5 linked regions of the Homo sapiens genome follow. The protein of the gene in region 5 purifies or fractionates together with the protein of the main gene of each other region. This does not show direct contact. Each region holds a gene or a part of one and is shown on either strand. Other genes may lie near its edges. The genes, in order: SAFB, FARS2, YLPM1, RTCA and USP45.

Region 1 (6,525 bases), on a different chromosome or scaffold from region 5:
CCTGAGGAGGGAAGCTCAGGCACGTAGAGAGCGCCACACGTGCCCTACTGCACCTCCTTTAAGGCCCTTTCCTTTTTTTTTTTTTTTGAGATAGAGTCTCGCTCTGTTGCCCAGGCTGGAGTGCAATGGCGCGATCGCTGCTCACTGCAACCTCCACCTCCTGGGTTCAAGCGATTCTCCTGCCTCAGCCTCCCTAGTATTCGAGATTACAGGCACCCACCACCACACCCGGCTAATTTTTGTTTTTTTTAGTAGAGATGGGGTTTTGCCATGTTGGTCAGGCTGATCTCAAACTCCTGACCTCAGGTGATCCACCCACCTCAGACTCCCAAAGTGCTGGGATTACAGGCGTAAGCCACCACCCCCGGCCTTGTCCTGGCTTTTTAAATCCATTGTAATTTGTTTTTGCTTATTCTAGAAATAAAGAATTAAAAAAAAATTTTTTTTTGAGACGGAGTTTTGCTTTCGTTGCCCAGGCTGGAGTGCAATGGCGTGATCTCAGCTCACTGCAGCTTCCGCCTCCTGGGTTCAAGCAATTCTCCTGCTTCACTCTCCCAAGTAGCTAGGATTATAGGCATGTGCTACCACACCCGGCTAATTTTTTGCATTTTTAGTAGATACCGGGTTTCACCATGTTGGCCAGGCTGTCAAACTCCTGACCTCAGGTGATCCACCCACCTTGGCCTCCCAAAGTGCTGGGATTACAGGCATGAGCCACTACGCCCGGCAGTAAGATTAATTTTAATTTCTCAAACATACTGAAGAGGAGGTATGAACACAAAATGCTGAGCATGGCTGCTGTGAGGAGTCAGGTGTGTAATTCCAGCAGTGATTGTGTCAGGCTTTACACGTGCACTGCAACCTGGCAAAAATTGCTGTTTGTTGTTTCTTTCTATTGCATGGGTTGAAGAGGAGCCCAGGTCATATATACAATGCAACTTCTATAAAGGGCCTTGTAAACTGTTCTAGGATCTATTATGCTTTGGTACGAAATCCTTCTGATGACAGTTCATTATGGTCATCTGTGTATTGCAGCAGTACATGGCCAGGGCTGCTGGCAGGGCAGGAGGTCAGCTTTGGGGCGAGAGAGATGGCAGGTGCACTTGACAGAGCCCCTCGGGGTGGAGGCTCACGTGGTCTTCCTGAGCGGAGGTGGCTGTGTAGGGCTCCAGAAGCCATCTGCAGGCAGCCCATAGGACTGACTGCTTAACTAATGGCTCCCTCTTTGGAAAACCGAGGCCGCTTTTCATCAGGGGAGGTGGGTGCATGGGACAAAACAAAACAACTGTGCAGTCACTGGGGTCAAATCAGACCTTGCCTCCTATAGGAGAGAACACTCTTGGTGAAAGTCATCCTGGTTCTGTGAAGTGCTAGGGGCCAGCTCCCACAAAGGTGATAGATACATTTGGGGTGGGGGATCCCTCTATCTCTGTCTCATGTCCCCTCACAGGCGAGATGATGCCTATTGGCCGGAAGCCAAGCGGGCCGCCCTGGATGAGCGCTACCATTCTGACTTTAACCGCCAGGACCGCTTCCACGACTTTGACCACAGGGACCGCGGCCGCTACCCCGACCACTCGGTGGACAGGTCAGTTGGGCCCCTGCTGGGCGTGCGGGTTTTCTTTTTCCTGGCTCATTCTGACTGAGAACAAGGACTCCTGGGCTCTCTGAACCCACTCCGTTCATCAGATGTATGCTGAGTCAGACCCGCAGGTCTCCTGCCTTCAGTTAGGGAAATTATGCTTTTCATTGGGGGCCTGATGGTCCTCTCTTTGTGAACAAGCCTCTTCTTCCCCTTACGGTTTGATTTAAATTGCCTTTTCAGGAGAGAAGGTTCAAGGTCAATGATGGGAGAACGAGAAGGACAGGTAAGTCTGAAGCTACAGTGGTAGCCACAGAATTTCCCATAGAATGGGTTCTTTTCCCTTCAGCGTGCCTTCTTCCTGCCCTTTCTTTGAGCAAGAGGCAAAATGAGGAAAGAGAAAAGTAAAGCACTAGAAAAGTCTAGGTTTGTGGAATGGAAATTTGGGATTATTTGGGGTTAGTCTTGGCTGTCAGTCCAAACAGTTACTCTGAAGCTGTTTTTAGCCTTGACCCTGGGGTTCTGTGTGCCACACTCACCACACATGTGCAACAGTGCCAGGGAACCTTGGGATGTGACCTGGCTCTGCTGGGAAGTGTCTAGTGAGCCGCACAGCTGACTCAGACAGGTGCATCTGGGGAGGCTGTGGTTGCTGTGTCTGTCCTCGAGTGCCTGCCCTCTTTTGAAAGTAAGGACATCCTTCATCACCCCAGGGCCCAGCTTAGCCTTGGAAAACAACTAGATCTGTGGTCTGTGCTCATTCTCTTCGGGGGCTAGCACATTAGAACAATAAGCTCCATTTTCTCCTTCCATCTTACATTGAGACTGAGACTTCCCAGGAGAGCCTTGGACCTCTAGTGGCTTTCCCTATAAACTTGGGGGCAGCACATTGCTGTGTGGAAGATGCCTCCTCTCTGAGGACTCCACTCATGAGCCCTTCCTCCTCCTGCCAGCATTTTCTGGACTCCACCATAAGCTTCCCGCTTCTGTCCCCCTTGGTTCCTTAATGTGGCTGAGCATAGCCAAGTACTCAGCTCTGTCTCGGGATCCTCAGGAATTCCATCAGCCTCGTGGGGTTCCTTTTTCCCTGCTCCTGGAGGCAAATTATATGCAGCAAAACGTAGAACTAGTCTTGTGGATTTTCTTTGGTGGAGGAGCATACACCAATGGTTCCATGTAAAGGCTCCAGAATCAGAACTGGCGTCACACCTTGGTGTCACCCCTTCCTGCTGAGCCTGTCTCCCCAGGAGTGAAATGAGGGTAATATTCCTCCTACAAAGGGTGCGGTGGTGGGGGTTTACATGAGGTGGGCGCATCTGTACAAACGTGTTTATCATTGCCAGCTACTTTTTTTTTTTTTTAATAGAGACGGGATCTCACTATGTTGCCCAGGCCAGTTTTGAACTCCTGAGCTCAAGTGATCCTCCTACCTCGGCCTCCCAAAGTGCTAGGATTACAGATGTGAGCCAGCACACCTGGCCACCAGCTGCTTTCATGAAGGTGTTAGATATGCTCTCCTAACAGTGGAACGCGGTTTGATCCCTTCTCCTCACATACACAGTCATAAATGAGTCGTCAGAGTTACCCCAAAGGGAAATGGTAACATCTCCCTACAGAGAAAACTAGCACAGAACTTATGGGCCTCATTGAACAGTTACGTGGGTTGGTTGGACAGAAAAATGTTGGTTCAATTTTCAAATACTAAGGAGAGCTTATTTCAGGAGTCCCTTTTCTTACTTTGTTGAGGGGAGGCATCAGAGCACATGCTGGGAGGATAGGCCAGGAAGCAGGCAGTGGTAACGTGGGACATCGTGCACGTGGTGGAGCATGCCGCCATCTCTCCCTTCACCCTGGCAGAGCTCTCCGTTGAACGGGGAGGTGAACTTGGACATGGACAACAACCAGCCTGTGTCAAGGGGGTTTCCTTACCAGGACTCCTTTCTAGTTTCCTTTCACCTACAATGTGGTCATGGGGCAAAAACCCCAGAGACCACATATGTATTGGTGGAAAGAGAAAAAACAGGACTGTGGAGCCAAAGCTACCTCACTAGCTTTTGTGAAAGTCAGGCTGGAAAGTGCTTCCAGCCACAGAAATAGGCTGTGGGTGTAAATATTAACCTTGGCCATCAAATAAGTAGGCATAGAGTGTGACTCGCCCTCTCTTGGTCTTCCCTGAAACAGCAGGGTCAAGAACTCCTGGTCTGTGTTAGCCACGTGGCTTACAAAAACAATGACACAGAAGAGGGAAAGGTGGGACTAGCCAAGTGGAAGGCCAGCCGTTTATCTCTCAGTGTCCTGTGTCTTATATCCTGAGCAGAGCAAGGTGCAAGACCCTGGACTGGGCATCCAGCAGAAACTTCCGAGAAACTTGACTGTGAGGAAGGATGCTTGCCTAGCAATTGGTCGGATGAAGGGCTCCATTTGATACTTCCTTCACTGTGGAAGGAAGAAATTTGTAAAAATTATTTCCAGAATATGCACACATTAAAGGTTTATAAACCTGACCTTTCTTTAGTAGAAGACAGTAAGAGAATACTGTTGGCTCTGGGAACTAACCATTTGAGCTGTGGGACCCAGGGAATCTCTCTTGTAAGCATCATCTTTAGTGGGTGACTCCTGGTGGCCCTCCCAGCTCTGGTGGTGCTGTGGGGACCTGCCTTGGAGATGCCTTGGTACTAGTACCTTTTTTGTACCAGGCCATGAGCCTAGGGCACAGGGCCTCTGGCCTGCAGATTTCAGGAAGGCAGCTGTGTTGTGTGAACCGATACAGCCTGCCAGCACTTCTGTCCCGAGTGACTGTCGTTGTCATCGTTAGCATGTTGCCTGAAAAGCCTTGGGGTCTGGGCGCTGACACTGAAGCTTTTTTTTCCCTTCTGGCTCTGTGATGTCCAGCATTACCCAGAACGCCATGGAGGACCAGAGCGCCACGGCCGGGACTCCCGCGATGGCTGGGGGGGCTATGGCTCTGACAAGAGGATGAGCGAGGGCCGGGGGCTGCCTCCTCCCCCCAGGTTTGTGTCCCACACCCGACAGTACCTGACCCCCCCCCCGCCCACAAGGGGGCCCGCAAGTCGCTGGGATGTGGGCACAGGGTGGGAAACACAGAGGGATTCACTCTCCAGAAGCCGCCACAGTTATTAGCACAAGAGCCAGAGATGGGGGCAATCCAAATCAGAGATGTCTCTCTTTCAAGGGGCAGACGTGACTGGGGGGACCATGGCCGAAGAGAGGATGACCGGTCATGGCAGGGCACGGCCGACGGGGGCATGATGGACAGGGATCACAAGAGGTGGCAAGGTGAGGAGCAGCTCTGGGCTGGGACCAGGATGTGCTGGGGAGTGATGGAAAGATGGAGGCCGCGCCTTCTCTCCTTGGGGGAGCACAGGAGGTGCTCTGCTCTCAGTGCTGGAATGAGGAATGAAGAGCACTCCAGACACCGCCTGCTCTCTGGTGGTCTGGCCCAGGAGTTGGACAGTGGGCGTTCCCGAGTTCTCTCTGCTGGGAGGAAGCTGGACGTCTATGGTCCCTGTGCCCAGGTGTCTTCCTGGGACCCGCTAGTTGTGGGTACCTGGGGGCCTCACCAAAGGGAGTGGAGTGGGCTAAATGTGCCGTGGGTTCCACGCCGTGTGCGCAAGTTCCCTGTGTGAAAGCACGTCTGTCTTCCAGGTGGCGAGAGAAGCATGTCCGGTCACTCCGGGCCTGGCCACATGATGAACCGAGGAGGAATGTCAGGGTAAGGCATGCTGGGGGCGGCGCCCCTTCCCCCTGCTTTGCATATTGGCCTACCTTGCTGGAGGCTTAACAACCAAGTCCTTCCAGCTAGTGCCCCTCCCCCCAAGGGTGACGTGAGGCCAGGCATGGGGTACTGTGGAGGCTGCTGCCACTCAGGAGGGGAGGGCATTAGGAAGGGGCCCTGCCTGCAGGCAACACTCAGGGAAGCTGTGCAGGCTGGGATGGGCCGGGGAGCAGGAGGACTTCGCAGTCAAACCAATGTGAATTTGTTCCTAGGCGCGGCAGCTTTGCCCCAGGCGGGGCCTCCCGGGGCCACCCCATCCCACACGGTGGCATGCAGGGCGGGTTTGGAGGCCAGAGCCGGGGGAGCAGGCCCAGCGATGCCCGCTTCACTCGCCGCTACTGAGTACTTGGAATCCTGTGTCCTGTCTCGTGGCAACAAGGCTATGTTCTGTTAGGAGTTACCTTAAACTGTGTAAAAATATTTTTTTTTAATCTGCTGCCATATTGTAGCTCAATACAATGTGAATTTGTTTTTCGTTTTGGGGTTTTTTTTTTTTGTAATAAATGTGTTTCCGTTCACATACCCTTTATTTAAAGTGTCATTTCTTTATTTCTGCCTCTTTAAATGAAACGAAATTAGACTTTTAGTTGTATTGATATACACTGATTGTTCCTTTTTTTAATTATTATTATTATTTTTTTTTTTTTTTGAGATGGAGTCTCGCTCCGCCACCCAGGCCTGAGAGTGCAGTGGCGCGATCTTGGCTCACTGCAGCCTCCACCTCCAGGGTTCAAGTGATTCTTCTGCCTCAGCCTCCCGAGTAGCTGGGACTACAGGCGCCTGCCACCACACCCGGCTAATTTTTATATTTTTAGTAGAGACGGGGTTTCGCCATATTCGTCAGGCTGGTCTTGAACTCCTGACCTCATGATCTGCCCGCCTTGGCCTCCCAAAGTGGTAGGATTACAGGCGTGAACCACCACGCCAGGCCGACTCTGTTTATTTTTAAATATGTGTGAAACCTCTGGGAAGGCATCCGGGTGTGGAAGAGGCTTTCCAGTGAGACAGTGATTGGTTTTCGCATAATGGGCCTGTGCGGTGCAGGTTTTGCCTGACTTCTCAAGTCACCGAGTTCTCCTTTAATGTTAGCACAGACCGGGCTGCTTTGCTCTTGGGTACTGGGTGGCATCCCTGTCAGGGTGTGGGG
Region 2 (6,525 bases), about 94 Mb from region 5:
CTGTGTAGGACTAAATATTGAATTCATAATTTTAGACTGTTTAAAAAACAAAGTATAAATTAAAGTTTTATTATTGAATATTCAGTTCAATGCACTGAAACAGCAAATTTTGCTTCAGGGGAGTTGGCAGGAGTATATGCAACAAAGACCCAAACACTCAGAACGAATACAGCATGGGAAGCTGCAGTGGTGGACAGAACAAGTTATCACTTGCATAACAGACCAACCATATTGTTGACCCACTTATCTCAAGCACAGATCCAGGTTGGTTAAAGAAAGCCGTGGTAGGCAAAGCACTTAATTCAAAATATGTAAAATGAAAATCAAAAATTAAAATCACATTTTAACTTGAGTTTCTTACCGACTAGATTTAAACAATGGGTTTCAAGGTATGCAGGAAAAGAGTCACACAGGTGAGGACTCAGGGTCCCATCAATCAGAGACTGTTGCTAGCACCCAGGAGAGTGCCCCACAGCTGGACAGAAAAATGTACAGGACAGGATGTGGAGGCCGCACAGAGAAAGACACCACAGAAGCCAACACAGCCTAGAGCATCACTTAGGAGGGCCTAAAAGGAGACCAAGGAAGAGAAATTTCTGCTTCTTGCACAATAGGATTCCCAAATGGCTTCCAGAGTTTCCTGGCCAGGGGATCCACAAGTTCATAGCTGCCAGCAGGCCTTTTCCCCATTTTCTCGCCCCACCTCTGAGATTGCAGAGAATTACAATCATTTTAAGTATTTTTCTCAAGGCAGGTCAACTGTAGTAATAAAACAAGTTTTCTGTCAACACAGTCCCCTCTTATATATGTAAATATGACTACTCTACATAAATAGTTAAAAATGGCTAACACTTTAATACTATCCTTATTTTTTATCCCTAAAGACAAACCACTCTATTATATCTGAAGGCAAGCAATCTGTCATGACGAAATAGGATATAAAATGGCACAAGTGATAGGCTAAATAATAGCCCCCTTCCACAGATATCCATCTCTTACTCCCTGGAACCTGAGAATACGTTATCCTACATTAAGATCTTTATAGATATAATTAAGGAAGGATGTTCAGATGAGGTGATTATCCTGAATATCCTGGTGGGTTCCATGTAATCAGAAGAGTCCTTCGAAGAGGGAGGCAAAAATTCAGAGAGAGGGTGAGGTGTTTACAGAGGGAAGTGGCAGGGCTTGGGGGAAGGCAACGTGATGCTGTCATAAGCTAAGAACTGAGGACTGTCTCTAGACGGGCAAAGGCAAGGGAACAGATTCTCCCCCAGAGCCTCCAGAAGGAACCAGCCCTGCTGACACCTTTACTTTAGGCCAATCAGGCTGATTCTGGATTTCTGTCCTCCAAAAATATAAGATAATAAGCTCATGTTGTTTTAAGCTTCTAAGTTTGTGGTAATTTATTATAGCAGCAACAAGAAACTAATACGTATTTTTGTATCTGGAAGTGAGGTATTGCTTGTAACAAATACATAAAAATGTGGAATTAGCCTTGGAATTGGTCAGTGGGTAGTAGATAACTTGGAGCACCATGATATTAAATGGCTATTTTGCCTTAAAGAGACTCTTGTAGAAATATGGATGTTATAGACTGTGACAGGCAAGGAAAAAGTGAGGAGCATGGTAGAGAAAACCTATACTGTCTGAGAATATCCAAATATTCATAAACATACTGGTGGTAGCAATACAGATGTCAAAAGCCCTGCTGGTGAGGGCTCGCAAGGAAATGAGGAACATGTTAGTGGAAGGTGGAGGAAAGGGGATCCTTGTTCATTCATAGCGGCAGAATTAGATGAATTGGAAGTGGAAAGCAAAACTTGTAAACAATGAACTTGGATATTTAGCTGAGGAAATTTCCAAGCAAACAGTGAAAATGCAGCCTGCTTTATTCTTGCAGGAGAAAACAGACAAATTAAGAGAACTGCTATGCAAAGAGGAGCAAGATTAGATAATTTGGGAAATTCTTAGCCTATCTATACTGAAAAAGACAAAAAGTTAGGGGTTTTGCTGAAAGAAAAGTGCTTTGGAGAGAAAGCCATGAGTGCAGCTATACAACCCTTTGTTAATGCCTCAGAAGTTTTGAAGGATCAGGGTATTTAGTCAAACAGAGGGCTCTTTGAAGAAATTAAGCATATGAGTCAAGGATCCCCTCAGGCGTCTCAGCAGAAGCCAGAAATAGCAATGAATTATTCAAGAAAGATCTGCAGAGGAGCCTCTTGTGTAATGGAATGAATCCCTATGATATAAATGGGAGAGCCACAAGGTTTTTGAGAATGATTTACCATCAGGAACACTGTCAGCTGGAATTGAGAGGGACAAAAGAACAAAAAGAGAAGGAAAGAAAGAAGGCTATTTGACTCCCCAAATTCTTCAGGCAAAAGCCAGGGTAATAAAACAACTCACCTGCATATACATGCCACCCTTAACAAAAAAGGAGGTAAGGCACAGTGGCTCATCATGCCTGTAACCCTGACACTGTGGGAGGCCAAGGCAGGCAGACTGCTTGAGCCCAGGAGTTGAAGAACAGCCTGGGCAACATGGCAAGACACCTTCTCTACTAAAAACACAAAAAATTGGCTGGGCGTGGTACCATGTGCTTGTAGTACCAGCTACTCGGGAGGCTGAGATGTAAGCCTGGGAGGTGGAGGTTGCAGTGAGCCGTGATGGCACCACTGGGCTCCAGCCTGATGAAAGAGCAAGACCTGGCCTCATAAATAAATAAAAGAACTTTAAAAAAGAAGGATATTTTAGAGGGTAGAAATACAGGTCAAATGGGTGAAGCCAAGGGCCACAGAGAATTATCCCCAGGCCTTGAAACCTAATGGCTGAATTTTGAAATAGCTTGGAACCAGTGATTCTTTTTCTTCTCCTTTCATTTTCTCCCTTTTTGAATGGAAATGTCTACAACTATTCTCCAATGCCTATCCTACTCATTGTATTTTGGGAGTAGGTACCTCGCTTCAGGTGCAAAAGTGGGGAGGAATTTTGCCCCAGGATGAATCATACCCAGAGTGTCACATAAACCAGCTTTAGATAATTAAATGATGAAATGGGACTTAGGGGCTGATGATATTTAGATGACATTTTGGATTTTGAGTTGATTTTGCAATGGGTTCAGAGTTTGTGGGACCTTGGGATAGGCTGAATGTATTTTACAAAAGACAGATGTGAATCTTTAGGGGTCAAAGGGAAGACTCTGGTAGACTGAAAAATGCCCCCAACCCTACCCAAAGATATCTACGTCCTAATCCCTGTAACCTAGAAATACATTACCTTATATTCAACAGGAAATTTACATTTCCTTTTGTATTAGAGAATTAATTTGTATTAAAGTATTAAAGGATTACTTTAAGAGAAGTATTTTGAGATGGGAAGATTATCCTGAATTACCCAGCAAGGCTTGATACAATCATAAGGATCCTTATAAGAAAGAAGCAAAGGTCAAAGAGAAGGCAATGTGACAAAAGATGAAGGAGAGAGAAAAGGCAACATGATGCATGGCTGTGATCCAAGGACTGAGGATGGCCTTTAAAAGCCGGAAAAGGTGACAGTTCACAAGGACAGAAAACCAAATACCGCATGTTCTCACTCATAGGTGGGAACTGAACCATGAGAACACCTGGACACAGGGCAGGGAACATCACACACCAGGGTCTGTCGTGGAGTGGGGGGAAGAGGGAGGGATAACATTAGGAGAAATACCTAATGTAAATGACGAGTTAATGGGTGCAGCAAACCAACATGGCACATGTATACATATGTAACAAACCTGCACGTTGTGCACATGTACCCTAGAACTTAAAGTATAATTAAAAAAAAAAAAAAGCCAGAAAAGTCAAGAAGGTGGATTCCCCCAAGAGCCTACAGAAGGAGTCAGCCCTGCTGACACCTTAACTTTAGCCCAGTTGGGTGGATTTTGGTTTTCTGACCTCTAGAACTGTAAAATAATAAATACATGTTGTTTTAAGCTACTAGATTTGTGGTAACTGGTTACCTAAGCAACAGGAAACTAACAAGAATAGATACTAATTATAAGTGAATACTTAGGTAATAGTATGATCTATAATCTATACTTCACAAAGTATTTTATGAACATATACTAAATATGAATGTACAAATCCTAATTGCCCCGTTAGAAGTTCTTAAGTTTGTTACACAAAGACAACTATAAAAATTATATATTAGTGCAGGTATGCATATATTGGCTTTCAAATTTGAAGGCAGAAAGGAGAAAAAAAATGACATTTAGTGCAAGAGATCAAGAGTCTATTTCTATGTGTCTCATAAAAAAAGATTGTTGTAAGTACACTTAAAATTGAATTTAAGCCACTTAATTCTGGTGGCAACTGTGTTTTTCATCTTTATTTGTCACACCATGGTGTTGAGCACACCATTCTACACGATGTTGGTGTTCTTTAAATGTTTGCTGATTAAATAACTGACAATATATTAAAAAGAGAATGAGAAAAAGTTACAGCCCTAGCCAGGTTTTATTGTAAATTAGATACAGCTTTATTTCAAATTAGTCTACAAGGAAATTGATGCTAAAATAAAACAGATAATTATTCAAGTAGAAGTTTTTAAAAGTCCTCATAAGGTAAAACCAAAAATATATGCATATATACATAGAAAGGTTCAAGATGCAGATGGGCACACACACAAAATCAGTGTGCTTCACTATAACAATAACAAAATACACTCATAAAAATCATACCTGTCCTTAAAGTTGATGATATGGTTTGGCTGTGTCCCCGCCCAAATCTCAACTTCAATTGTATCTCCCAGAATTCCCACATGTTGTGGGAGCAACTCAGGTGGAGGTAATGGAATCACAGGGGCCGGTCTTTCCTGTGCTATTCTCGTGATAGTGATTAAGTCTCACAAGATCTGATGGGTTTATCAGGGGTTTCTGATTTTGCTTCTTCATCATTTTCTCTTGCTGCTGCCATGTAAGAAGTGCCTTTCGCCCACCGCCATGATTCTGAGGCCTCCCCAGCCATGTGGAACTGTACGTCCAATTAAACCTCTTTTTCTTCCCAGTCTGGGGTATATCTTTATCAGCAGCATGAAAATGGACTAATACAGTTGAAAAGGTCTGTACACAAATATAAATAAGTATAACTCCAGAGAGAGATGAGCCCTTCTAGGGTAGACAGACACTGATGGCTGCTGTCGCCACTGGGGCGTGAGTAGGCAGAAGAGCTAGCCTGCTACTGGCAAAGACATTTTGTTGGAATAAGAAGAATGAGCCACACTTGCGTCAGCCAAGCATGGGCTGGCATGGCAGATTGGAAAATGGAGAAACAGAGCTAACCCTCACTGCCAGCCAATTCTCCTTCATAATATTTCTGCTTACAAACGCTGGTGGTGGAAGAAGCTGGTAAGTGGATGGAAAGCAGAAAGAGATCCTGTGATCTCACATGGTTAGATCCCAAACTCTGCTGCAGGGCTAGATCTCACCATCAAGAGGAAAGCAGATGTGAAATTCAACTCAACTCCTGATTAGAACAAAAAGATCTGGCCTAGTCACCTTAGCAGCCAGAAGGTAGAAAGCATAAGACTTTCTGGGGATAAATTTTATCTACCTCAGTCTTTGTCCATTCAAACACAATTAAAAAAAAAACAAAAAGACAAGTGAAGCAGCAGGAAATATGTAAGCCATGATTAGGAAGGGAAAACAACCACAACAAAAGAACACTAGATAATCAAATGGTTGGAATTAACAGACAAGTACTTTAAAATAACCATTATGAGGCCGGGCGCAGTGGTTCATACCTGTAATCCCAGCACTTCGGGAGGCCAAGATGGGCAGATCACCTGAGGTCAGGAGTTTGAGACCAGCCTGGCCAACATGGTGAAACCCTGTATCTACTAAAAATACAAAAGTTAGCCAGGCATGGCAGTGTATGCCTGTAATCCCAGCTACTCGGGAGGCTGAGGTGGGAGAATTGCTTGAATCCAGGAGGCAGAGGTTGCAGTGAGCTGAGATCATGCCATTGCACTCCAGCCTGGGGAACAGAGCAAGTCTCCGTCTCAAAATAAATAAATAAAATAAAATAAAATAAAATAAAATAACCATTATGAATATGTGAAAGAATTTAAGGAAGAATGGATGAAATGGATGAAAAAATCAAGCATTTCAGTAGATAAATGAAAACTCTAAAAAGGAAGCAAATGCAAATTCTAGAATTGATAAATACAGTTATCTGGGGAATGATTAATTCACTGGATGGGCTTAATGGTTACTTGGACAAAACAGGAAAAAAAAAAAGATGAGCAACCCAAAGAGAAGACAATAAAAATTATCAAAAATAAAGCACACAGGAAAAGAAAATCGTTAATTAAAAAAACCTTTCATCAGAGTTCTATGGCATAGGATCAAATGGTCTAACATATATGCAGCTTCATTCTGAAAAATGAATGGAGTAGAATTGTTGGAAAAGATACTAGATGAGGGCTGGGCGCAGTGGCTCACTCCTGTAATCCCAGCACTTCGGGAGGCCAAGGCGGGCGAATCACAAG
Region 3 (6,525 bases), on a different chromosome or scaffold from region 5:
AACCCAGGAGGTGGAGGTTGCAGTGAGCCAAGATCGCACCACTCACTGACTCCATCTCAAAGAAAACAAAACAAAACAAGAAAAAAACCAATACTCTACTGTGTACTGTGTGGCCAGATGACTTTGCCTAATGTAAACTTTCTGAGCACATTTAATAGCTAGGCTAAACTATGGTATTCAGTAGGCTAGGTGTATTAAATGTTCAACTTACATTATCCTCAACTTACAATGGGTTTATTGAGATGTAACCCCACTGTAAGTCAAAGAGTATCTGTACTTTTACTATTCAACGTAAGAAAACAGCACACTTGGCCAGGCACAGTGGCTCATGCCTGTAATCCCAGTACTTTGGGAGGTCTAGGCGGGCAGGTCACCTGAGGTCAGGAGTTCGAGACCAGCCTGGCCAACACGGTGAAACCTCGCCTCTACTAAAAATACAAAAATTAGTAGGGTGTGGTGGCACACACCTATAATCTCAGCTACTCCGGAGGGTGAGGCAGGAGAATCCCCTGAACCTGGGAGGCGGAGGTTGCAGTGAGCCGAGATCGTGCCATTGCACTCCAGCCTGGGCAACAGAGAAAGACTCTGTCTCAAAAAAAAAAAAAAAAAAAAAAAAAAAGAAAGAAAACAGCACACTGACCATGAAAGCCAAAGCCAATAATAATAATAATGTAGCATTAAAACACTTCCTTCCATTATTTTAATACTGAAAACATCAACAGACTTATCCTTCAGTTTTAAAAAAATTAGTACATTCTCTTTCAAGTAGAAGTTAAAAGTTTCCTTTTTTAAAGTTGCTTTGAAAGCATTATTAAAAGATACAAAGATGCAAACTATCTTTCACAAACTAAGCCAATGCTACAGATATGAAGACTGTACAGAATGAAAACTGTACAGGTCCAGATTCTTTATCAGCTTCTTCATCACCTATTCTCATGCTTTGTCTTAGATCCAGACCAGGGTTAAGAACTTGTTAAGGGCTGAAGTACTTGTTGATTCACTGACAGTATGCCTTGTAGGTCAATTTCTCTTTTTTTTTTCTTGAGATGGAGTCTCGCTCTGTCGCCCAGGCTGGAGCGCAGTGGCGCGATCTCGGCTCACTGCAAGCTCCGCCTCCCGAGTTCACGCCATTCTCCTGCCTCAGCCTCCTGAGTAGTTGGGACTACAGGCGCCCGCCACCACGCCCGGCTAATTTTTTATATTTTTTAGTAGAGACGGGGTTTCACCATGTTAGCCAGGATGGTCTCGATCTCCTGACCTTGTGATCCGCCCACCTCAGCCTCCCAAAGTGCTGGGATTACAGGCGTGAGCCACCGTGCCCGGCCGCCTTGTAGGTCAATTTCTATTTAATATGAACCCTATAAGTAGTAACCAGATCTAATTCAATCCTATGGTAGGCTTCAGCACATTTTTGAAGCTCTGCAAATAAATAATAATGATATCACTCACAAATGTCCTTACTGACCCTAAGAGAAGTGTGATCATCCCTATTTTAGAAAGAAAAAAAATGCCTGAACTTGCTAATGATGCCAGCTCTTCTGAATGTCCCATCATATCAGATAACTCCATTTCATATGGGATGTTGTTTTATAGGTAGAGGGAAATCATAATATAGGTCACATTTAAAACGAGATTGAATGAAGGGATTTCAAACATAAAGAATGTAGAACTATTGGCTGGGTGCGGTGGCTCACATCTGTAATCCCAGCACTTTGGGAGGCCAAGGCGGGCGGATCACAAGGTGAGGAGTTCGAGACCAGCCTGACCAACATGGTGAAACCCTGTCTCTACTAAAAATACAAAACTTAGCTGGGTGTGGTGGCACATGCCTGTAATCCCAGCTACTCGGGAGGCTGAGGCAGGAGAATCGCTTGAACCTGGGAGGCGGAGGTTGCAGTGAGCCCAGATCCTCGCGCCACTGCACTTCAGCCTGGGTGAGAGCGAGACTCCATCTCAAAAAAAAAAAAAAAATTAAGAATATAGAACTATTTGTCACAAATACTGTTATTAAGAAAGATGCTGCCGAGGCACGAATATCGCTTGAGCCCAGGAATTCAGACCAGCCTGGGCAACATGGCAAGATCCCATCTCTCTGAGAAAAAAAAAAAAAAAAGAAAGATGTTGATTTTAATTTACTCAGGAAGCACTTACTGACCACTGCTGCTAGTAATGAACTAGATACTAAATGATTTTCCAAGTGGAGAACTATAAAGGAGGTGAGTGTTTGTGTGTAATGTTTTAAAGATTAATTTTAGAAGATTACCTTCCCTATCCAGGTTATCATAAATGCCTATAAGACAATGTTCTATGTCTTATATTCTAAAGCAGGGGGCAGGGAGGACACCTGGTAAAATAATGAATTGGGTTTCCATTTTAGAAATTTATTTAAAATAGGCTTAAATATTTTTGAGATTCACATTCTACTGTAAGAATCAGGGTCACCAGATAAGCTTAGTCCCCACCTATTTTTATTTTAAATGCTCATTTACTTCATCTATTCCTCCAGCTCCTTCCCTCATTCTCTCTCTCCTTCAGTCAAACTTCTTGAAAGAGTTGTCTGTACTCACCATCCCCATTTCCTCACCTTCCATCACTCCTCAAATCAATGCAATATGGCTTCAGTCACTATGAAACTGCTCCTGCCAAGGTCAACAATAATCTACATGTCAGTAGGTGCAAAAGATAACTCGCAGTCTTTATCTTGCTTGACGTCTCAGCAGTACTTCACACAGCTGACGACTCCCTCCTCCTAGAGTCTGTTCCTTGACGTTCATGGCAACGCACTATCCACTATCTTGATTTTCCACCTATCACACTGGTGCCAAAGTAACTGTGGTTTTGCCATTAAAAGTAATAGCAAAAACTGCAATTACTTTTGCACCAACCTAATATGAATACCTATTTGGCCATTCTTTCATTGGTTCCCTTAGATACTGCTATTTGTGGAGCTAGGCTTAATGTCCTTTAACCTCAGTTCTTACTCTACACACATTCCTTGAGAGGCTTCATCTATTTCTGTGTCTTCAAATACCATTTTTATGCTGATGACTTATAAATCTATGTCTCCCAGATCTTACATCTAGACTCCAGAGCTATATCTAACTTCCAAGTGGACATCTCCATTTGGAATCTATGTCTCAAGAACCCCAAACTCAGTATGTCTGAAACCTAACTCATGATTTTCTCCTCACCCCCAGAAATGTTCTTCCTCCTCCTCCTTTAGGTTTTTCTGTTTTAGTAAATTTGACCACCATCCACCCTACGGCCCAGCCCAGAAACCTAAGAATCATTCTTGATGCCTCCCTCTCCATAACTACTCAACCTCAAAGTGAATTCTAGCAGCTAAATATTTCTCCACTCTTCCCACTTCTCTCCATCTCAACTAATACCATCAAAGTCTAAACCACTATTATCTCTTGCCTGGATTACTTCAATAACTATTCTCTCTAAATCACTCTTGCTCCTTTTAATTCTGCTCTCCACACTGCAAGCAGAGTGAGCTTTCAAAAATGCCAATCTGTCACATTCACCTATGTAAAATCCTTCAATGGCTTCCAACTGCCCTTAGAATGAAGTCCTTACAGGCCTTCCCTGATCTAGTTCATACCTACCATCCTCACCCTGAGCTTTCAGTGAGCCTTATTGAACTTAATTCTTTGAATTCTAACTTCTGGTTAATTTCTACTCTTTTTCTTTTTTTTTAACTGAGATGGAGTCCCACTCTGTCGCCCAGGCTAGAGAGCAGTGGGGCAATCTTGGCTCACTGCAACCTCTGCCTCCTGGGTTCAAGTGATCCTCCCACCTCAGCCTCCCAAGTAGCTGAGATTAAAAGCGTGCACCACCACACCCAGCTAATTTTTTGTATTTGTAGTAGAGACAGAATTTCACCATGTTGGCCAGGCTGGTCTTGAACTCCTGACTTCAAGTGATCCGCCTGCCTTGGCCTCCCAAAGTGCTGAGATTACAGGCATCAGCCACTGCACCTGGCCTACTCATTTTTTTTTTTTTTAGGTCTCACTCTGTTGCCCAGGCTAGAGTGCAGTGGCACGAGAACTCCTGGGCTTAAACAATCCTCCCACCTCAGCCACCCGCAAGTAGCCGGCACTACAGGCATGCAACACCATGCCTGGCTAGGTTTTTTTTTTTTTTGAGTCGGAGTCTCACTCTGTCGCCCAGGCTGGAGTGCAGTGGCGCGATCTCGGCTCACTGCAAGCTCCGCCTCCCGGGTTCACACCATTCTCCTGCCTCAGCTTCCTGAGAAGTTGGGACTACAGGCGCCCACCACCACGCCCGGCTAATTTTTTGTATTTTTAGTAGAGATGGGGTTTCACCATGTTAGCCAGGATGGTCTTGATCTTCTGACCTCGTGATCTGCCCGCCTAGGCCTCCCAAAGTGCTGGGATTACAGGCGTGAGCCACTGCGCCCGGCCACCTGGCTAGTTTTTTAAACTTTTTGTGGGCGGGGGGCGGGGGGGGGGGTGTCTCACTTTGTTGCCCAGGCTGGCCTTGAACTCCCGGCCTCTAATGAGCCCAAAGAACTGGGATTACAGGTGTGAGCACCCAGTCCTCCTACTTATTCTTTAGAGTTCATTTAAATATCACTTTACAGGCCCGGCGTGGCAGCTTACGCCTGTAATCCCAGCACTTTGGGAGGCCGTAGCAGGTGGATCACGAGGTCAGGAGTTCAAGACCAGCCTGGCCAAGATGGTGAAACCTCTTCTGTACTAAAAATACAAAAAAAAATGGCCGGGCACTCTGACTCACACCTGTAACCCCAGCACTTTGGGAGGCTGAGACAGGCAGATCACCTGGGGTCAGGAGTTCGAGACCAGCCTAGCCAACATGGTGAAACCTCGTCTCTACTAAAAATACAAAAATTAGCCAAGCGTGGTGGCAGGCGCCTGTAATCCCAGCTACTCCTGGGAGTAGCTGAGGCAGGCTGAGGCAGGAGAATTGTTTGAACCCGGGAGGCAGAGGTTGCAGTGAGCCGAGATCGTGCCATTGCACCCCAGCCTGGGCAACAAGAGTGAGACTTCGTCTCCAAAAAAAAAAAAAAAAAAAAAAAAAAAAAGATAAAAATACAAAAAAATTAGCCGGGCGTGGTGGCAGGCACCTGTAATCCCAGTTACTAGGGAGGCTGAGGCAGAAAATTGCTTAAACCCGGAAGGCGGAGGTTGCAGTGAGCCGAGATCGCGCCACTGCACTCCAGCCTGGGCAACAGAGCGAGACTCCATCTCAAAAAAATAAAAATAAATAAAATAAAATAAAAACAAATAAAAAATAAAAAATATCACTTTACAAAGGGAATCCTCTTTAATTAGGTTAGCGCTCCCAGCTATATTCAATTATTTAAAATATATTTGTTCTCCACCTCCTATGCGCTAGATCCTATGCAAGGTACTGTGAATACAGTGGTAACTTAAAAAAAAAACAAAAAACAAAAAACTTGCCTTTGCCAGTTCCTTGGGGAATAATCTAGTGATATTTTATAATCCCATAGCACTCTGTACGTCTCCTCTTAATTACTTACTAAATGTCTTCTCCCTTCCCCCACAACTGAAACAAGAAGTCAATGAGGGCAGGTCCCATGTCTATCTTGTTAACCATTTCATCTCCAGTATTAAGCACAGTACTCATAGTACCTGGCACATAGTTGCTAGTCCGTAAGTATTTAAACATTAAATAAATGATACCTCTAAAAACTAATCAAAGCCAACAGCTTTAACTAAATAAATCAGTCCTTTAAACACATAGAAAAATTAATTATTCAAAAAGACACATTCCGACCGGGCGCAGTGGCTCACGTCTATAATCCCAGCACTTTGGGAGGCCGAAGCAGGTGGATCACTTGAGGTCAGGAGTTCGAGACCAGCCTGACCAACATGGTGAAACCCCATCTCTATTAAAAATACAAAAACTAGCCAGGCATGGTAGCATGCACCTGTAATCCCATATACTTGGGAGGCTAGGGCAGAATTGTTTGAACCCAGGAAGTGGAAGTTGCAGTGAGCCGAGATTTCACCACTGCACTCCAGCCTGAGCGACAGAGTGAGACTCTCTCTCAGAAACAAACAAACAAAAAAACACATTCCATTAAATCATCAACACTTTACCCGAAAAACTAGAAAACACCTGGAAAAATATCAAGTATTTATCTTGTCCTTCCTATACCAACTGTATTTCCAATCAAATATCTGTGGCAAAAGTTTTTCTTTACATAACTCCATATAGTAACTGTGGAAGAAATGGCAGAAAAAAAAAATCACCAGGTTGCAACCTCTGTCTAATGAAATAATTTACTTAGGCAAGGTCTTTCTTCAATTGATGAACCAGTAGACTGAAACATTAGATGCAAGATTGATAGAAAGCTTTACAGTAGAGGGACCAATGGCATTACTAACAGTGGGACAACCAGGCATCGGGTGTCCCATGAGGAATGCAACACTTGCCAAAAGAAAGCTGAACTTAAATGAAGGTTCCAGAGTTAACTTCTAATTCAAAAAAAAAAAAAATGTGGAAGACATA
Region 4 (6,079 bases), on a different chromosome or scaffold from region 5:
CAGGGATTACAGGCATGAGCCACCGCGCCTGGCCTTTCTTTTTTTTTTTTCTTTTAAGAGACAGGGGCTTGCTCTGTTGCCCAGGCTAGATTACAATGGCAGTATCATAGCTCACAGTAGCCCCGAACTCCTGGGCTCAAGTGATCCTTTCACCTCAGCCTATCAAGTAGCTAGGACTGCAGCTGTGCACCACCACACCCTGCTAATTTTTTTTTTGTTTTTGTTTTTGTTTTTTGAGAGACGGGATCTCCCTGTGTTGCCCAGGCTGGTCCTGAACTCCTGGGCTCAAGTGATCCTCCCACCTCAGCTTCCCAAATGCCGTGATTACAGCTGTGAGCTACTGTGCCCAGTTTGATTCTTAATTATGTATACTTTTAATTGTTATTAAGAAACATAGATAAGTTTTTGTTAAATTGTAGGAAAGACTGATGGGAATTAAAGGCAAATTGTATTTGATGTCAAGAGTGTTAACTCTATTTTTTTTGTTACTCTACTTATGCTGTATTTATAACTATTACTTGTCTGTCTCTCCTTATAGATTGATCTCCTTAATAGCAGAGATCAGGTTTTATTCATTATATTCTTTACTTTTCACAGTACTTTACATATAGTAGATGCTTACTTGTTATTTGAAATGTATACATAACGGAAAGTGCTATGAACCTGTGTATAGCTTGTATCTTGGTCAGCTTTGTTGTGTATAACTGGGTGACTTGGGGCAAGTTTCTTATCTTTCTTTGTCTCAATGCAAATAGTTATCTGTAAAATCAGACTTAAGCTAGATAGGCCTGCTATGCTCCTTTCAGGTCTACATATTTGTAGTTTTAAGTAGGTTTATGTATAGGCTAGAAATGATTTTCATAGCTGCTACGTGTGTTTCATATTTACATAATGCTTGTAATTTGAAAAATATATAAACGCATGCATATATTACTAATTAATTAATATGGTTACCTAGCTCAGAATTCAGCATTTATTCATTCAACAGTAATTTCAAGTGTCCACTCTGTGTCAGTACATTACCATGTAATGCTGAAAGTGAAAGAATTTTTAAACATTACTATTCATTCAGTAAGGCCCCCAAGTGATGGTTTTCAAATTGTGCTTCCAAGAATCCTAAGATTTTAGGCATATTTGAAATCCTTTTGCCACAAACTTAACCTATTTAATTGTTTTGATTTTTTTTTTTAAGACGTTGATGGGAGTTGTGAGGAGTCTTCCTGTGTTGCCCAGGCCAGCCTCCTGAACTGAACTCAAATGATCCTTCCACCTCAGAATAGCTGGGATTATAGGTGTGCACCACTGCACCTGGCTAGTTGTTTTGATTCTAAATTTAGTTTTGTTAAAATGAATCACATTTGCTTTAAAAATAATGATGTTTTCAAAATACAGTGATATAGGCCAGGCACAATGACTCATGCCTGTAATCCCAGCGCTTTAGGAAGCTGACGCAGGAGGATCACTTCAGCCTAGGAGTTTGAGCCTGGGCAACAAAGTGAGACCCTGCCTATACAACAGAATTAAAAATTAGCCAGGCATGGTGGCATGTGCCTGTGGTCCCAGCTACACTGGAGGCTGAGGCAGGAGGATCCCTTGAACCCAGGAAGTTGAGGCTGCAGTGAGCCGTGTTCATGCCACTGCACTGCAGCCTGGGTGACAGAGCAAGACTCTGTCTCAAAAACAGAACAAAAACAAAAGCAAAATACAATGATACAGGTAAAATATTTCAAAGCCAACTTTAGTTACTAAGTGAAAAATGTGATGTTAAGCCCAGTACATTAAAGATGAAGGAAGATGTTAATCACCACCACCACCCCTCCTCCCCACATACCTTCTCTGAACTGGATCTTTTGAACGATATATATAGGGAACTAAATTAGCAAGAAAAAATGTAAAGAAATTAAAGGGTAATTTGTGACTTGACAAGATAAAAGTAGAAATGTTTCAGAAAAATTTTAGGGCATAGGGAATACAGTTGCATTAAAATTACCATTTGAGGTTTCAAAATTGTTATTTGCCTAAGCTGTACATCTGAGCTTTCTGATTCAGTGTGCGTGGAAGGGGCCCAGGCATATATATTTGGACAAAACTCACAGGTATGTATACCTCTGAAGAAGAACCATGGTTGTACAATGAAATGTGTTATCTTGAGGCTATTAAGTTTCTTTCTCATCAATCATTTGATCTTTGTGTCTCTGTAGGTTTTTCAATAAAATGGGCTTGACATTAACTCTCTGCCTACATAAGTTGGAGTTGTGGGCTCTTTCCTCCATCTCTCTTCGTATTACTTATATACTCCTCTTCTGATTTCAGGCTAAATTTATTGTGAAGAAATCAGAAGATGAAGAAGACGCCGCTAAAGATACTTATATTATTGAATGCCAAGGAATTGGGATGACAAATCCAAATCTATAGAGTATTTGCCTCTTAAATGATACCTCATTGATATATTGCACTATTTCATAAATACTATAAAATAATGACTAGGAAGTAACTTATTAAAGGCTATGACTTAAATTTGAAGATGAAGTACAGTGTTCTAGGTTTGCTGAGAAGGCTTCATTAAATTAATCTCACTTTGAATATCTCCTGAGAGATGGACAATGAAATATCAGTTGGTGGATATGTGTGATAGCTGATTTCAATATTGAAGTATTGAAATAAAATATTCTTTACACCTGAAGTAAATACATTTTTCTTTTTTATGTAATTAATTAAATCAGGGATATAGATTTGATCTGTAATTTGGGTATAATTCTAATCTTTGCTGAAATCACATCTCAAGTATAATGAGGCAACTTTATGCAAATGTACTTGTTGTGACAACAATAACATTTTCCTTTTTTTTTTTTTTTTTTGAGACAGTCTCGTTCTGTCACCCAGGCTGGGGTGCTGTGGTGTGATCTTGGCTCACTGCAACCTCTGCCTCCCGGGTTCAAGCAATTCTACTGCCTCAGCTTCCTGAGTAGTTGGTATTACACCACCATGCCCAGCTAATTTTTGTATTTTTAGTAGAGACAGGGTTTCACCATATTGGTCAGGCTGGTTTCGAACTCCTGACCTCGTGATCTGCCCGCCTCGGCCTCCCAAAGTGGTGGGATTACAGGCGTGAGCCAGTGCACCCGGCAACAATAACATTTAATAGGCATTGTCTCATTCTAATGATATATACCTTCTACCTAGTGGGCACTTTGTACATATTTATTTTTTATTTTATTTATTCATTTTTTTTGAGACAGAGTCTCACTCTGTCACCAAGTTGGAGTGCAGTGGCACAATCTCAGCTCACTGCAACCTCCGCCTTCCAGGTTGAAGTGATTCTCCAGCCTCAGCCTCCCGAGTAGCTGGGACTCCAGGCACGTACCACCATACCCAGATAATTTTTGCATTTTTAGTAGAGACGGGGTTTCACCATGTTGGCTAGGATGGTCTCCATCTCCTGACCTCGTGATCCGCCCACCTTGGCCTCCCAAAGTGCTGGGATTACAGGCATGAGCCACCACAGCTGGTCGTAAATATTTTTTGAATTTGAATCTGTTTTGGAAGCCAAATATGTTTTGGAAGCCAAACAATTAAGAGAAGTAAAATTTTAACCCTAGTAGGTTTCGCAGATTCATCCCCAGATATGTTTTTGTTTGGCTTGTGTTATTAACAAATAAATGAGTGTCTTTCAAATGGAATGTGCTTTCATTATTCTCTGTTATCTTACACCCAACATGCTTCCACATTTAGATGTTTTCCTGTTCCCGGTAGCAGTTGAGGTTGTGACTCAAAGGAAATCAGTTTGGTATGTCAGCTTAATGTGTTGTACTACAATAGAGTGTGTAATTCATTAAAACTTGGGTCTATCTTGGACCTTTTCTCATGATGATTAAAACATAGTCCAAAATGTAGATCCAGAGGATGCTCTATGATACATTTAGAAAGTCCTGAATTAGTCTGTATGGAACAGTAAAATGAAAAAAGTTGCCATGTACATAGTCATTATTCTTATCCTTGTCTGTGATATCTATGACCTTGGACAGTTGGGTTCAATTTGCTTTAAAGTTGATAATAGTGTTACTTGCTGTTTATGTTTTCACATAGTGGGTAAGTTTTGTAAGTTATTCATTTCTGTAATAGTTGAGATATATCTTTCTATTTTAGAGTAAAACTTTTTTAGAGTAATACTACACTTGTTGTTCGAGGGATTGTGATAAATTTGGGGGTCTTCAGACTGAAATGATTTCTGTACTTCTGATGAGGTGTGCCAGCAGTGTTAAAGGTGTAGGCTGGAGTGCAGAGATTTTGCCTCTGGGAGTGAGAGATTTAAATTCAACAGTATACACGGGGAGTTTACGATTAATCTTGGCTTAGATGTGTCACTGTTATTGAGTCTCAGCGGTAAGTCCTACAAGTGACTTGAATTTCTATTTTCCAAAAAACTTCTATTCTTATGTCTGTTCTTTATCTAAAATTCCATTTCAGTATGTTTGTTTGTTTGTTTTAAACTACCAAATGCAAGTAGTTCTGTTGATTTGACACTGTAGAACAGTCTTTTAAGAATATTCTTTAAACCAGTGGCCTTCAAACAGGGGTATTCCTACCACTTGAGTTTTACAACGCTTTTCCATGAGATTCAGGTTTTGCAGATGTCAGTGGTTTTTAGAGAATTAGTTTCCAAGTTTTGCTACTTAAATGTGTACTTTCTCCTAAAATTGAGTTGCTTAAAGTCAAGGTAGGTGTTTGAAGGTTCTTTTTAGCATCTTTTTCACAATTGCCATTCTTCCTTTTTACATAAGAAGTTTATTTTTTACCAGTCTTAGTGCATTTTCCCAGAGTTGTAAGAAAATCTCCAGGGTACCACATAAAGGGGCATTTTGAAATACTAGTCTCTGAAAAGCCCACTCAAACTAAGATATGAACCTGCATCTTATTTGTGTATTTTGCATGATTTTAAATAAGGAGGAGAAAGCTTCATTAATATGTTTATCTATTCAGTGTTTCAATAGATAAACATTACATCTTTAAACAGAATTTTCTTTTCTGATTACTAGGAGAACCATTTTTTTTTTAATTGCCAAAACGCTATTAGAATGTTTAAATCCTTTTAAACTTTGGGAGTTTACTGCTTAGTAAAAATTTCACTTCATTGCTCTCTATTCATCCCTACCATGTGCAGTGTGCTCTAGCTTCTATAATCTATCTTATATTATTGTGTAGTTTACATATTATTAATAGATATATAGATGGTGTTTTGTTTTGAGACAGTCTCAAAAGTGCTCAACAGCTGCCTATTGAATTATTAAATATGTCCTCAATAATGCTAATTTGGTGAACAATTTCATTTCCCTTTATGTTCTTCTGTCCTGGTTGTGATACTGAATTATTAATTATTAATTTTTATTTTTTTTGAGACGGAGTCTCACTCTGTTGCCAGGCTGGAGTGCAGTGGCGTAATCTTGGCTCACTGCAACCTCCGCCTCCCGGGTTCAAGTGATTCTCCTGCCTCAGCCTCCTGAGTAGCTGGCACTACAGGCGCGCACCACCACGCCCGGCTAATTTTTTTGTATTTTTAGTAGAGATGGGATTTCACCATGTTGTCCAAGATAGTCTGTATCTCTTTGCTTCGTGATCTGCCTGCCTCTGCCTCCCAATGTGCTGGGATTACAGGTGTGAGCCACCTTACCTGGCCTTAATACATCTTTTTTTTTTTTTTTTTTGAGAGGGAGTCTCGCTCTGTCACCCAGGCTGGAGTGCAGTGGCACCATCTCGGCTCACTGCAAGCTCCGCCTCCTGGATTCACGCCATTCTCCTGCCTCAGCCTCCGGAGTAGCTGGGACTACAGGCGCCCGCCCCCACGCCCGGCTAATTTTTTGTATTTTGTTTAGTAGAGATAGGGTTTCACCGTATTAGCCAGGATGGTCTGGATCTCCTGACCTCGTGATCCGCCCGTCTCGGCCTCCCAAAGTGCTGGGATTACAGGCGTGAGCCACCGTGCCCAGCCAATACATATTTTTAAGTCCCACACTTGCTTGATAAACTTTTTGCTATATGTTTCCATTGAACTCTGTGTCATTCCAGCAGTTAACAATATTTA
Region 5 (6,525 bases):
AGTTTTCTTCTCCTTACCCTTTCTTCTATTATAGGAAGTGAAATATCAATGAATGGATCTTTCACCGTGGAGATCTTAAAAGGAAAACACATTGAAAACTTCAGTTAGAATTCTAATATAAACATACAGTTTTGTAAAGTACAAAGAAATCAAACTTCCCGGGCAACCTAAAATTTTACGTTAAAAACTGTTCCTGAAAAAAATAGCAATTTAATTGGGTATTGCAGCACATTGTTAATCAAAACAAGATATTCTCAAACATCAGTGAATGGTGATCCAATTGAATTTTATATTACTGTCAATATGACTGGCCTGTAATATTTAAAATAACTTAAAAAAACTGTTTAATAAAACAGATTAACTAAAGAGACTAGACATTTTTGGTTAGCTTAGGGCTGTAACATAAGTAAACTATGAAATGTTAAGAAAAAGCCATGAAAAAAAGCAGAGAGCTTGGCTGTGTTTTATAGATTCTTTAAGATAATTTTGTTTTAAAAGATACTCTCTATCTTGTGAGAGAGAAAACAACTTCTGTGTTGAATAGTCTAGAAACTTAAATAATCATGGTCATGCATTCTGTGTTTCAATGTGACAGGCTAGAATGAGATATATTTTATAATCCTGCTTCTTTAAGGCTAGAGAACACAGAAAAATACTCATAATCTGGGACAGGAAAATGAATAAAGGCTCCTTTTACTATTAAAATCTAACAGAAATTTAAACCTATCATACTCTAAGTCATACACTTACAGAAATATTCCTTGCCAAGCAATTGAAAATCTACAAAAAATTCATACATGCTTTAAGTTGTTAAAGATGGCATTCAAAATAAAAATTATTAAGTTCAAAGTGAGTGAAGTCTACACAAAAATCTTTAATACGTCATATAAACTTTAAATCAAAGGTGATATAACCACCCTAAATTATGTTAATACATTAAGTTATTTCTATTGGAATTAGTTTTTTTTTTTTGAAACTGAGTCTCGCTCTGTCACCCAGGCTATAGTGCAGTAGTGCGATCTCGGCTCACTGCAACCCTGCCTGCTGGGTTCAAGTGATTCTCCTGCCTCAGCCTCCCGAGTCATTGGGACTATAGGCACCCACCACCATGCCTGGCTAATTGTTTTGTATTTTTTTAGTAGAGATGGGGTTTCACCATGTTGGCCAGGCTAGTCTTGAATTCCTGACCTCAAGTGATCCGCCGGCCTTGGCCTCCCAAAGTACTGGGATTATAGGCATGAGCCACTGCACCCAGCCTGGAATTACATTTTAGGGCACTGCAACGTAGCACAGTTACTCTCTTCACAGAAGTTTTTCTCTCACTTCAAACAGATAGCTAATGAATTTCAGTATATTAAGATAGGCTAAAACTGCCTCATAGGTGTGTCATGAGGAAAAATAACACAAAAATACATTTACTTTTAAAAATATATAAATTATCACATTTACTTTCTAGGAGTGTAGCGTATAAAAAGACTTTCAAGAATCATTATGTAATCATCTGTCAAATTTTAAAAATGACTGCCAATGATTATATGTGAAAGAAAATATAATAAAAATGATGTGATTGTAATCCATTCCATGCTGAATTGAATTCTAAAGTACCTACATTTGCACATTCTTCACACATGACCGTGCTAGTTAATTCACCAATAAAGATCCGATCTATGAAGTTCATTTTCACACCTTCTTTTCCATATGCTGTAAAAATCATACTTTTTAATGCAAAAAACATGTCAACCATCCATCTAGCAGTATAATAGGCTATCTTCTGGTTATTCAAAAGTAATCTGAATAAGATATTCTGTACTACATTTAATAATACATTTTACTATACATACAACATTCTAAAGTCTTTCTCCTTTACAATTTTGTAGCAGATTTACGACTATCAACTACTTTAGTCTCCAAGAAATAATGAACTATTCTTAAGAGGTAAAACAAAACAACCACTATTCGTACCACACCTCAACCACTCCCATTAAAACTTATAAAACCTCATGTCTAACCAATAAGTACCCAGAAGAATGGAAAAGGAGATTATGCTATCAGGACTACGGATGCCAGGATCACGGCTATGAAAATAACAGTCGTAAAAGGCAAGTGTAAGGAATTAACATAGGTAATTAAGAACTCAAGAACATGGTTATATTTTTAAAAGTTAAAATTATTCTGCTCAGGAAATATTTATAAATTAAAAAAATGCCAATGACTTAGTTTAAAATAACCTGAGGTTGGGAGAAAATGGATTAAACATAAACCATGAACGCAGTTTAAGTTGGGTGACAGATATAAAGGGCTGCATTATGCTATTCTCTCTACTTTAATAAAAATTTGAAACTTTCCATCATAAACCATGGGAGGAAAAAGTATATTAACAAACCTATTCACCCCTCTTTCAAACTTCTTTTTTGAGCCTCTATCTTCAAGTTTCATACAAACAATATTCAAAATCATTTAAAATATTAGAGCACTGAATGACAGAAAACATGTGAATATATCAGTAAACATTAATTAAAATTGTATTTAGAAATACTATAATAATAAAGATATTTCTTCTAGAAAAACTAAAAGGGATTGGAAATAGTACAAAACTGGAAAGAGGGGGAAGAAAAACGGGGCTGTTATTCTAAACATCCACGAGATGGCACTATCTCAACACAAAAGAACAAGGCATATTTGAGCAGCTACGTTTTTTAAAAATCTTGAACCCTTAATTACAATAAAGTGCACAGTAACAATGTGTGTATGTTTGCAAATTATAGACCTGTAGTACATACATTATAAAACCACAAAAACAAAAGTTAGAAAAAAATACAAATAATATTTTTAAATGTCTTCTAAAAATCACTTCATGCTAACATTAGTTAGTATCTCAATGCAGAATATACATTTAGGGCAAGGTATATAAACCCTATATAGTATTGATAATGATAAATAACCAACTTTGATTAGGTAATCATCATTTGGGGCTCATATTTTTATGGATGAATAGCAAACACTAGGAGTAGGCAAAGTGCACTTACACTTGACTTACCAGCACTCTCTTCAATAAACGGTTTATTTGCAGGAGTCTTTGGAGCACTTAAACATTTTGTCTAGTTACATCTAAAAAATATCCATAAATCCATTGATCCAAACACATGTCAAATGATACAATATGATACATATGAACTTCCAAGTGTGGTTGCTACTTTCAACAACCTTTCAAGTTTCCCTTAGAAGACCTCACATAAAGGTATCGGTGTCAATCTGTATACTTGGTATAGCTTTATTCTTATAAATTCACATGAATACATTCTAGCATTTTCTATGTTCCACTAAAGTATTTTTCAGACACTGCAGCAACTACGTCCTCCTTTTAAAGCCACTACTTTGGTGGATTAGTTCACATAATGTTCAGTTCTTTTTCCAACTAAAATAAAATTTTAATATTTTCTTAAAGAAAAAAGTTTTAACAAAGAGTCAACATACCTTTGACTTTTTTTCTAGTTTCATCATCAGCAGTTTTAGTAGTTGGGTTGTTAAATGCTTTTAGAATGCTAGCTTGTATTCGCTGTAAAACAAAGTTAATAGATTCTGGTCTAATAATAGTTAACTCAGGCCTCATCCTCCTAATAAAAGTACTTTCAAACAGCAAGGTACACTGTGGATTTCAGTTCCCTAGTTTGAAAATAAAATGACCAAATTTTTTAAAAAATGTAATTTCTTCCAGGTCTCAAATTCCATGAATAGATTGCTCTAATGTCAAATTTTCCCAAGTAAGAGTCAGAATTTTTACATTTAGGTTCTCTCTTGGATTTAATGTATTTTTATCAGTGTACAAAAAGCAAGCAGCCTAGTCCTGTTGCTTAGCATAAATTAATTTGCCCTCTTTCTTCCTTCTCCCTCTCTCTAAAATGACACTTCTTAATTAGGACCAAAAAAGAAAATAGACCATATGAAATTTATTGTCTATGAAGACCTTTCTATATTAAGAAGCTATCAAGCTGGTTACTATAATCTCTATGCTATGTGGACTACCTCATTTATATACACATATAACTAAAGTCCAAATTTATCAATTAATGTCCATAGCAAGAAGAATCCCCCAAATTTTAATTATGGTTTTACTTGAACTTAGTTGTCAATAATGATTATGTTTTCAGCAGCTCTCAGTAAATGACAAGGTTTATATTAACTATTTCTACATCTCTTGTGTATGTTTTAGGAAAGATCCAATCTCACAGAAAAGTTTCAGAATAAAACTACATACTCCAAGAATAAAACTTAGTAAGTGACCTTTTAACATTAACTATGCCCCTAATTAGTGGATGAATTTTGTCTTCCTAATTCAGATTATGACAGTAGGATGAGGGAAAAGTTTAATTATCTTTCCAAAAAATATATATATAATTAATATATATATAATATATATATATATATTTTTTTTTTTTTTGAGAGTCTTGTTTTGTTGCCCAGGCTGGAGTGCAGTGGTGTAATCACTGCCCACTGCAGCTTTGACTTCTCTGGGTTCAAGTGATCCTACTGCCTCAGCCTCCCAAGTACCTGGGACTATAGGCACACACCATGACACCTGGCTAATTTTTAAAAATTTTTTTGTAGAGATGGGGTTTTGCCATATTGCCCAGGCTGGCCTTGAGCTTCTGAGCTCAAGCAAGCCACCTGCCTCAGCCTCCCAAAGTGCTGGAATTACAGGCATGAGCTGCCACACCTGTTTTTTGTTGTTTGTTTGTTCGTTTTGTAGAGACAGGCTCTTCCTATGTTGCCCAGGCTGGTCTCAAACTCCCAAAGTGCTGGGATTACAGGTGGTGCCTGGTCCTTCCTATCTTTTAATTGGAAAAGATCACTATGATATATTAAGTGAAAAAAGACAAAGTACAAGTTATATATATGGTATATGCCACCTTTTGAATAAGGAAAAAAAGAGCATAAAGGAAGAAAGACAAGAACACGGGATATAAACAATGGCAAAGTCAAAACACAAGAGAGGCAAAGGGATCTCCCAGGAGCATGGTTAGGAGGAATTCCAGAGTGACACCTATACATCAGATATGAGAGGTAAAGAACCCAGATTGGAGCAATGAGACTTATGAATCAGAAATATTGTCAACACCAACATCCCCTTCTGCCATTATAACATGCTTTTAATCTAAGAACACAATATTATATGGAGAAGGAGGTGATCACATTCTTATTCTCGCTCCATGCCCTGCTGCCTGGATAAGCAGAAGACACTCATGACCCCCAGAATTGTTCTGCTGTGTATGATTTATGTTTCTTCTGTGTATGATATATGTTTTTTAACACATCCTCCTCCAACAATTGTGAAACCGAGTTTCACTTATTACTAACTGGCCTGTGATTAACACATTATATTTCCTATAACTGTTCACTGTCCTCAAGCATATTTTGAAAATTAATACAAGATTCAAAACACTTAAATATTTTACAAAGTAGGGGATAAAAGCAAACATAAAGCAATTCATACCGTGTGACACAAGTCCTGAAATACACTTATATACTATAAAGAAATCAAACAATAAAATGTCTCCCAGAAGCTATTAAATACTGAAATAATCTCCAATTCAGACTCAATAAATTTGAAAGTTGATATAATTCAGACATTGTCTAAGCTAAAGTTGGCTTTTACACCTTGAAAAAAGAATTTATTGAACTAAAGTAAGCAAATTGGAATTGTGTAAATTCCATGCAGGAGAAATATTTAATGAACTTAAATGAAAAATTCCAATAAATACCAATGTTCACTCGCAAATATTTCAGATAATCATAACATTTCAAACAACTCAAGAGAAATACTTCTAACTCAACTCAGTCTGTAAATTTATCCTACAATTTAAACATTTTACTAATTCAGACATGATTTTTGATATGATTTAATGAAACTTTGCTATATATCCTGAAATGTCATATCACTCAAAAGAAGCTAAGAAGTTACCAATTCAAGCAGCAGGAAAAAAGCTAAAAAGCTGTGATTACACTCTAAAAAGAGTAAAATGAAATTGTTTACATTATTAACTTTTAAATATTAGACTTTTGCTTTTTAATTTTGATCCTAACCGTGAATTTATATTCTCTACTCCAAACTGTTTAAAAGTCAATTAATAGGTAATTCATCAAGTTGAGGAAAATAAATGAGTTTACGTCCATATACAATTCCTCATTGTTAAGAGTTGTGCTTTGAACAATTTAGGTTAAAAGAAAGATACATACTTTGGTCAGGGAGCTGTTAATAACTGTAGCACTTAATCAATTAGCAGTATCAAGGTTCAACTATTTCAGATCTCCACCTTATACTTTAAAAACAAGAATGAAAATAATGTACAGTTTTAGCTGAGATATTCTGTCTTTAAAATAATTCTAACCAAAAATATATTACAGTAATAAATCTTGAAGATAATAAAAATATAGTATCATTAATTTAGTGACTGTGCAAATTAAAAGGAAAAAACAAAGAAGCATAAATGTATAAATTAAAAAGACTGCCTTATAAAAGAACTACTT

The links.
Region 1: the proteins of USP45 (region 5) and SAFB purify together in Homo sapiens (affinity purification with mass spectrometry; one large-scale study listed by BioGRID and IntAct). This does not show direct contact.
Region 2: the proteins of USP45 (region 5) and FARS2 purify together in Homo sapiens (affinity purification with mass spectrometry; one large-scale study listed by BioGRID and IntAct). This does not show direct contact.
Region 3: the proteins of USP45 (region 5) and YLPM1 purify together in Homo sapiens (affinity purification with mass spectrometry; one large-scale study listed by BioGRID and IntAct). This does not show direct contact.
Region 4: the proteins of USP45 (region 5) and RTCA purify together in Homo sapiens (affinity purification with mass spectrometry; one large-scale study listed by BioGRID and IntAct). This does not show direct contact.

What each region holds. Positions count from the first base shown.
Region 1 is NC_000019.10:5,662,572-5,669,096, forward strand, and holds the end of SAFB (scaffold attachment factor B1), read left to right. Parts: intron 1-1,450; coding exon 1,451-1,588; intron 1,589-1,825; coding exon 1,826-1,868; intron 1,869-4,474; coding exon 4,475-4,593; intron 4,594-4,775; coding exon 4,776-4,879; intron 4,880-5,248; coding exon 5,249-5,315; intron 5,316-5,590; coding exon 5,591-5,720; 3' UTR 5,721-5,907; downstream 5,908-6,525. UniProt on the Homo sapiens protein: Binds to scaffold/matrix attachment region (S/MAR) DNA and forms a molecular assembly point to allow the formation of a 'transcriptosomal' complex (consisting of SR proteins and RNA polymerase II) coupling transcription and RNA processing.
Region 2 is NC_000006.12:5,546,483-5,553,007, reverse strand, and holds part of FARS2 (phenylalanine--tRNA ligase, mitochondrial), read right to left. Parts: intron 1-6,525. UniProt on the Homo sapiens protein: Is responsible for the charging of tRNA(Phe) with phenylalanine in mitochondrial translation.
Region 3 is NC_000014.9:74,767,806-74,774,330, reverse strand, and holds part of YLPM1 (YLP motif-containing protein 1), read right to left. Parts: intron 2,640-6,525; exon of another isoform or gene 2,585-2,639; intron 1-2,584. UniProt on the Homo sapiens protein: Plays a role in the reduction of telomerase activity during differentiation of embryonic stem cells by binding to the core promoter of TERT and controlling its down-regulation.
Region 4 is NC_000001.11:100,289,090-100,295,168, forward strand, and holds the end of RTCA (RNA 3'-terminal phosphate cyclase), read left to right. Parts: intron 1-2,313; coding exon 2,314-2,415; 3' UTR 2,416-3,680; downstream 3,681-6,079.
Region 5 is NC_000006.12:99,465,063-99,471,587, forward strand, and holds part of USP45 (ubiquitin carboxyl-terminal hydrolase 45), read right to left. Parts: intron 3,557-6,525; coding exon 3,475-3,556; intron 3,469-3,474; exon of another isoform or gene 3,038-3,468; intron 1,702-3,037; coding exon 1,610-1,701; intron 75-1,609; coding exon 18-74; intron 1-17. UniProt on the Homo sapiens protein: Catalyzes the deubiquitination of SPDL1. Plays a role in the repair of UV-induced DNA damage via deubiquitination of ERCC1, promoting its recruitment to DNA damage sites. May be involved in the maintenance of photoreceptor function.